Linked DNA regions of Homo sapiens. Changing the gene in region 1 together with any one later gene gives a genetic interaction. Each region holds a gene or a part of one and is shown on either strand. Other genes may lie near its edges.

Evidence for each region.
Region 2: changes in JMJD8 (region 1) and NF2 together harm fitness more than expected from each alone (negative genetic interaction), as found in Homo sapiens cells (one large-scale study listed by BioGRID).

The regions. Positions count from the first base shown.
Region 1 is NC_000016.10:681,535-685,548, forward strand, and holds JMJD8 (jmjC domain-containing protein 8 isoform 1 precursor), read right to left. Parts: upstream 2,801-4,014; 5' UTR 2,786-2,800; coding exon 2,700-2,785; intron 2,622-2,699; coding exon 2,532-2,621; intron 2,376-2,531; coding exon 2,327-2,375; intron 2,248-2,326; coding exon 2,151-2,247; intron 2,065-2,150; coding exon 1,996-2,064; exon of another isoform or gene 1,908-1,995; coding exon 1,788-1,907; intron 1,701-1,787; coding exon 1,633-1,700; intron 1,554-1,632; coding exon 1,419-1,553; intron 1,341-1,418; coding exon 1,260-1,340; 3' UTR 956-1,259; coding exon of another isoform or gene 830-955; 3' UTR 748-829; coding exon of another isoform or gene 631-747; 3' UTR 543-630; coding exon of another isoform or gene 486-542; 3' UTR 347-485; coding exon of another isoform or gene 259-346; 3' UTR 136-258; downstream 1-135. Other genes in the region: STUB1 (E3 ubiquitin-protein ligase CHIP), read left to right, coding at 1-69, 259-346, 486-542, 631-747, 830-955; GATOR2 complex protein WDR24, read right to left, coding at 3,200-3,368, 3,458-3,642, 3,723-4,014. UniProt on the Homo sapiens protein: Functions as a positive regulator of TNF-induced NF-kappa-B signaling. Regulates angiogenesis and cellular metabolism through interaction with PKM.
Region 2 is NC_000022.11:29,669,633-29,673,132, reverse strand, and holds part of NF2 (merlin), read right to left. Parts: intron 1,308-3,500; coding exon 1,185-1,307; intron 1-1,184. UniProt on the Homo sapiens protein: Probable regulator of the Hippo/SWH (Sav/Wts/Hpo) signaling pathway, a signaling pathway that plays a pivotal role in tumor suppression by restricting proliferation and promoting apoptosis.

The DNA.
Region 1 (4,014 bases):
GCGGCGCATCCACCAGGAGAGCGAGCTGCACTCCTACCTCTCCAGGCTCATTGCCGCGGAGCGTGAGAGGTGGGACCCTCACCCCAGGCCGCCCTGTCTTGGGATAATTCTGAATCACCGACTCCCGACACAAGCGTTTATCGAAGGCTTTACTGGCAAGCAGGAAATGTGGGGAAGTGTGGATGTTAGCTCTGAGATTGGGGTGTGGTCAGACATCTGGCCAGGTCCATCTCTGACCGGCTCCTGGTCAACCCCCAGGGAGCTGGAAGAGTGCCAGCGAAACCACGAGGGTGATGAGGACGACAGCCACGTCCGGGCCCAGCAGGCCTGCATTGAGGCCAAGCACGTGAGGGTGCCCCCCACCCACATGTGGGTCTGTGTGTGTGCACGTGGCGTGGGAGCATCCCCGCCTTGTGTTGGGTCTGTGCCCCATGGAGGAGGGAGGTGGGGTGTCTCCCCCAAGCACAGCACTCAACTCTTCACAGGACAAGTACATGGCGGACATGGACGAGCTTTTTTCTCAGGTGGATGAGAAGAGGAAGGTGAGTGTGTGTCGCTTGCTGCCGATGGCTGGCAGGTGCTCGTGCAGTGCCCCTTTTCAGCCTCTGACCGTGTGCCCCTGTGCCACAGAAGCGAGACATCCCCGACTACCTGTGTGGCAAGATCAGCTTTGAGCTGATGCGGGAGCCGTGCATCACGCCCAGTGGCATCACCTACGACCGCAAGGACATCGAGGAGCACCTGCAGGTGAGGCCTGCGGCTGGGGGAGCAGGGCCAGTGGCATGGTCCTGGGCCCCATGACTGCCCTCTGCCCTTCTTGTCACTGCAGCGTGTGGGTCATTTTGACCCCGTGACCCGGAGCCCCCTGACCCAGGAACAGCTCATCCCCAACTTGGCTATGAAGGAGGTTATTGACGCATTCATCTCTGAGAATGGCTGGGTGGAGGACTACTGAGGTTCCCTGCCCTACCTGGCGTCCTGGTCCAGGGGAGCCCTGGGCAGAAGCCCCCGGCCCCTATACATAGTTTATGTTCCTGGCCACCCCGACCGCTTCCCCCAAGTTCTGCTGTTGGACTCTGGACTGTTTCCCCTCTCAGCATCGCTTTTGCTGGGCCGTGATCGTCCCCCTTTGTGGGCTGGAAAAGCAGGTGAGGGTGGGCTGGGCTGAGGCCATTGCCGCCACTATCTGTGTAATAAAATCCGTGAGCACGAGGTGGGACGTGCTGGTGTGTGACCGGCAGTCCTGCCAGCTGTTTTGGCTAGCCGAGGAAGGTGGAGATGAAGACGCTGGTGTCAAGGTTGAGCGTAGCATGCCACCAGCGGTCGGGGAAGTACAGCACCTGGTGGAGGAAGGGGGTGCAGCAGAGATTAGCTGCGGGCCTCTAGCCTGGCCTGGCCCTCTCCTGCCAGCCACTGACCTCACCAGCCCGGATGGTACACTCCAGGGGCCGTGCAGACGGTGGCAGGGCTGGGTATGTGTCCCGGAGCCAGGCCAGCGTGGTCTTGTTGGGGTGGAACTCTGGCGTCTTCTCAGGTGGGTAAAGGAACCAGCGCTGGGGGCATGAGCAGCAGTGTCACCCTTGCCCGTTTTGGTCAGCGAGTCCCAAGCCTCAACCCCCACCCCGTGCTGACCTTACGACCGTAGATCACTTCTGAGTACCCGGGTCCATGCCAGTGGAAGGGCACCCCCGAGCCAGCTCCTGTGGGGTTATGAGCACCTGGTGACCAACCCATTTTGTACTCACCGACAGAAGCCTCAGTCCTTCCCAGTCCCAAGAAGCACCCACCTGCGATTCCAAAGCTGTAAGCTGGAGCGGTTCCCAGCAGGCCAAATGGGGGTGGGGAGTAGTGCCGAAAGAGAGAGGCCCACTCGGTGAAGTTGTTGTCCCCGAAGAAGTACAGGGTGTCTGCCAACAGAGACGGCGGGGACAGGGATCCTGGCACCTGGAGACTCCAAGCGTCCCCACCCCCTACCGCCGCCTAGGGCTGCCTCACCATTGCCCAGGGAGGTGGGGTCCTGGGGGTGCAGCAGCTGCTCCACATACTCCTGGAAGGGCAAGTCCACTGCAGGAAAGAGACGGGTCAGGACCGTCTGGTCCAGCCGCCCCGGTGTTGGCAAATGGGCGGGCCCCAGGGGTGAGGCCGCGTACCTTTGTGGTAGGAGTAGGTGTTGGCGGTGCTCAGCCGGACCACTCTGTCCCCAAACGAAGCCAGCAACCTGTCGCGGGAGCACAGGGCCCGGAACCTCTGCGGGGGCGGGGAGGGGACTTAGTGGCCGGGCCCAGCACGGGCGAGAGTGGCCGGGGACGGACGGGCACGCGCTCACCGAGTTGTCCGTGAGTCCCTGCAGGATGACGGGCCTGACGAAGGCGTACCTGGAAAGAAGGGCAGAGTCGCGGCCAGGCCGGACCGCCAGCCTCGCCGCCCCAGCCCCACGCGTGCGCGCGAGGTCAGGGGAAGGCGGCCTTGGGCGGTCGGGGCAGACGGGCCGGTGAACAGGACGCGACCTCCGCGATCAGGGGCGCACGTACTGCTGCACGAACTCCGCGTAGGTGAGGTCGGCCCGACGCTCCACCGTGCAGCGCTCCTCCTCCGCCACGGCCCCCGGCCCGCCCGGGCGCCTGCGGGCACAGCTGGGTCAGCCCGCGCCCCGCCCGCCGCACGTGACCCCACCGCCCGGCCCCTCCCGGGCCGCTCACCACCCGCCGTCGCCCTCCGCCCCGGAGCCGGGTAGAGCCACAGCCGCCAGCGCCCAGAGCGCGAGCAACCGCGACGCCGGCGCCATGAGCCTGCCGCCCTCAGGCAGCCGCGCTGCACGCCGGGAACCTTGGGCCCATCCGCCAGCCATTGGCCGGCAGCTTCGTCGTCGTGGCAACGGCCGGGAACCGGGACGGACCCCGGAAGTGACCTCCTTTGGCCCGCCCCGGAAGAGGCCTCTACGGGAGGCACTGGGAAGGCCGCCCCGAGAGCGACTATGGGCGCCGCCGGTTACCATGGCGACAACCCCGCCGAAAGCCCCCGCCCGCCAGCTGCCCCGCGGGCCTACGGCGAGCCCGCCGCGCTATGGGGTGACACGCAGTGCCGACAGCGGCTCTACTTCCTTTATTGAGGTCTCAAGTTCCAGCCTCCGCCCGTCTCGGGCACAAGACCAGGCGGGGTTCTGCACGCGGCCGCCCGGGCAAGCCCAGCAGATGCCCCGTCAGGAGTACTCGCAGAGGTGGCCGCAGCCTGCGGGACAGTGGGAGCTGCCTTCCAGCCACTTCATGATGTGCTGCAGGTGGCCGCCGTGGCTGCAGCCCTGGCACCACACGAAGAGACCCTTGACTACGTGGTGGCAGACGGCACACATGCTGGCGCAGCGGTGGCACCTGGGGGCGGGCGGGAGGGAGGGTGCCTCAGCGGGGGCTGCTGCGCTGCCTGCAGGCCCCTGCCCCACCTCCCGACCCCACTGCCCCACCTGTCGCAGACCCAGCCCCGGCTGCTCATGGGCCGCTTGCAGTGGCTGCAGTTGACGTGCAGGGTGGTGGAGGCCTGGTTGAGGCAGCTGACGGCGCGGCTGGTGCTCAGCTTGACCACCTCGTTGGACACGTTCCAGAGGCGGAAGCGCTGCAGCAGGTCGATGTAGGAAGTGTACCAGTGCTCCTGGGGGAGGGAGCGCCCGGCAGTCAGGATCTGGGTGCCAGGGGCGGCGCTGCAGGGGGGAGGCCCCGCCCACCACACACCTGGGTCTGCTCGTCGATGTCCTTGCGCACCCGTTCACCCAGGACGATGAGCACAGACACAGCCATCTGCACGTCGCCCTGCTCAGCGTAGAAGTGCAGCATGTCGCGCACCAGCACGCCGAAGAAGTCGGGCGGCAGGCGGCTGTCGTAGAGCGCGTGTGAGACAGACAGGAGCGAGAAGGAGGAGTCCACGGGGGCCAGGGAGGCCACATCCGCCTCGCTGCCGCTCACGTGCGGGGAGTCGGCCTTGTCCTGCAGGTGCTCGGGCCCGGGAGGCGTGTCCACGATCTCG
Region 2 (3,500 bases), on another chromosome or scaffold:
CTGACAAGAAATGACAAGCCACATTCCCCAACTTTTCAGAAGGGCCCTTCGGGCTGCACCCATGGGGAGTAACAAGAGCACCTTCTCTGAGTACCCACCTCAGCTCAGGCTTATGCTTCACGTGGAGAAAAACAACTTAAACTCTGTTCTTTCCCTTTAAATCAGTGGTTAGAACCAGAGGAGTTTTTTGTCCCCTGCAAGAGACATGTGGCAGGTGGGGCACGGTGGCTCACGCCTATAATCCCAGCCTTTTGGGAGGCTGAGGCGGGCAGATCACCTGAGGTCAGGAGTTCAAGACCAGCCTGGCTAACATGGTGAAAACCCATTTCTACTAAAAATACAAAAAAAAAAAAGCTGGATGTGTTGGCGCGCACCTGTAATCCCAGCTACTTGGGAGGCTGAGGCAGGAGAATCGCTTGAACCCAGGAGGCGGAGGTTGCAGTGAGCCAAGATCATGCCATTGCACTCCAGCTTGGGCAACAAGAGTGAAACTCCATCTCAAAAAAAAAAAATAAAAGTACAGCTGGGCACGGTGGCTAACACCTATAATCCCAGCACTTTGGGAGGCTGAGGCGGGCAGATCACGAGGTCAGGAGTTCGAAACCAGCCTGACCAACATGGGGAAACCCCATCTCTACTAAAAATACAAAAATTAGCTGGGCATGGTGATGCATGCCTGTAATCCCAGCTGCTCAGGAGGCTGAGGCAGGAGAATTGCTTGAACCTGGGAGGTGAAGATTGCAGTAAGCTGAGATCGTGCCACTGTACACTCCAGCCTAGGCAACAGAGCGAGACTCCGTCTCAAAAAAAAAAAAAAAAAAAAGAGACATGTGGCAATGTCTGAAGATGTTTTGGATTGTTACAAATGGAGGGTGAGGTGCTGCTACTGGGATCTAGTTCCTACAGCAAAGGATGGTCAGCCCCAAATGTCAGTAGTGCCCAGGCTGAGAAGCCCTGCTATAAAGGCAACCTCGTGGTGAAAGTGGAGTTTGGCTGCACATAAGCTCAACCTAAATCTGCTTCTGCCAACACAGGTGAAAAGAAAAGGCACTGATTTTTTCAAAGCTGAAATTAAGTATTTCAAAGCAAACGCTGCTAACTCATGGTTTTCAGGAGACCAAGCTCCAGAAAAGCCAAGGAAGTCCCCAAGTAGCCTCCTGGAACCCCAGCCCCTCAGAAATCACCAGTGCTTCGTTGGCCATTGTTGCTTCTTCTTTCATCTGCAGCAGCCTCCTCTCCAACTCATCCCTCGTGCGTTCAGCCTCCTCCCTCATCTGCTTCTCTCGAGCGAGGCGCTGCCGCTCCATCTGCGAGGGGTGAAGAAAAACAGTCATTGAATCACAGGGCTCGAGACCTAGGGTGCCACAAGGGCCCAAAGATGCCCCATCTCCAGTCTCCCCTTTTGGGACCTTTTTCCTTCCCTTTCCTTTAGGTAGCCAGGGTCATTCTTATTGCCCCCCACCCCGTCCTTCTAAACCAGTTGCAGAGTTGAAAGCTGTGCCACTTGAAAAACAGTCTAGTGGTGAATGAACAAATGAACAAACAATAAAAACCTGTTGAGTCTTGACCCGGATAGAAAAAGGCATTCTTTTTTTTTGGTGGAGGGGACAGAGTTTTGCTCTGTCACCCAGGCTGGAGTGCAGTGGCGCGATCTCGGCTCACTGCAACCTCCGCCTCCCAGGTTCAATCAATTCTCCTGCCTCAGCCTCCCGAGTAGCTGGGACTATAGGCACCCGCCACCATGCCTGGCTAATTTTTGTATTTTTAGTAGAGATCAGGTTTCACCATATTGGCCAGGCTGGTCTTGAACTCCTGACCTTATGATCCACCCACCTTGGCCTCCCAAAGTGCTGGGATTACAGGCATGAGCCGCCGCGCCTGGCAGAAGGAGGCATTCTTATACACGGTGCACTGAAATGGCTACCTTGCCAATGTTGCTTTTTGTTGGGAAACCCCAGGTGGCTCTGCCCCATGGCCGATGGGATGCAATGCAGGACCTCCTCCCTCAGATAGAGCCCCAGAAATAAGCAGCTTTCTCATCTGGGCAGGCAAGCCATCTCACCATTTCTAATCCACATGGACCCCTCTCACATCTCTGATTTCATCAACAATAGCTCCACTCTTGCCTCTGACCCACAGAGAAGATGGAATCATTCTACGTGATGCATCAATAGTTCACACATTGTATTTCACAGGGGGGAGCTGCAACAGCCACAGCACAGACTTGCACAGCCTCATGTGGAGACAACTCCTGAGCCAGGCCTAGGACAGGAGGGAGCCAGGCGGGAAACACAGCCCCGTGTCCTTAAGGCAACAGCACAAAGCCACCACTACCTCCCTTGCCTTCTGGATCACTGCATTAATTGGGCCACATGCTGAGCTTAATAAGGGGAACAAGCACAAGACAGTGCCATTCCTCTGTGATCCCAGGGTACTAACTGAGTTCAAAAAGCAGAACCCAGAAGTGACCACTGCACTATTTTCTGCCTTAAATAATTAAAGCACATTTAATTACTTCTTGCTTCAATCTTATCCCACACTCTGGTCATACAAGGTTTCTAAGACTGCTGCTTTTTCTAAATCCTAAGCCAAATACACACACACACACACACACACACACACACACACAAGCTCAAAAAGATAATGCAAAGACAAGCAATAAAACAGTGAAAGTTCTTCTCCAATTTTCTCCTTGTAAGTCAATGAAAAGCTTGGCCAATTTGTTCTCTAATTTCCATCATATTACAATTTCCATAAGGTGGCTTACTACATATCTACAATTCTTTTAAAAAAAAAGAAACTAAGAAAGAAAGAAAGAAAAAGCCCAGTCAGGCCAGGCAGGCATAGCAGCTCATGCCTGTAACCCTAGCACTTTGGGGGGCTGAAGTAGGAGGAATGTTTGAGCCCAGGAGTTTGAGATCAGCCTGGGTAACATAGCAAGACCTGATCTCTACGAAACAATTAAAATTAACTAGGTGTGGTAGCATGCACTTGTAGTCCCAGCTACTTGAGGGGCTGAGGCAGAAGGATTGCTCAAGCCCAGGAGCTTGAGGTTACAGTGAGCTATGATGGCACCACTGCACTCCAGCCTCAGTGACAGAACAAGACCCTTTTATTAAAAAAAAAAGCCAGGTAATCTCCTTCAGTTCCTGGCCCTGTACTTTCCCTGAGACCTCTACCCCAATATAAAAGACCTCCTATTCACAAAAGAAGTTTACTGCATACAAAGACTGTAAGGTGTAATATACGTCCCTTCATCTGAGATGGAGAAGGTATATCATTAGTTTCACCTGATGGATGAGAAAACTAAGGTCTGGAAGGTAAGTCATTGACTTACTCACATTCTAAATTTCAGATCTGGCTCCAAGGTCAGTGTCTGTCCACCTGATCTGTGGTTGCCCAGATGCCAGGTTTGTGGCTCTGCTGTGCTGTAAGCAGTGCCGATCTGCAGTGTTCCTGCTATTCTCTGCCAGGGCCCACAGACTGCATATTCCCTGACA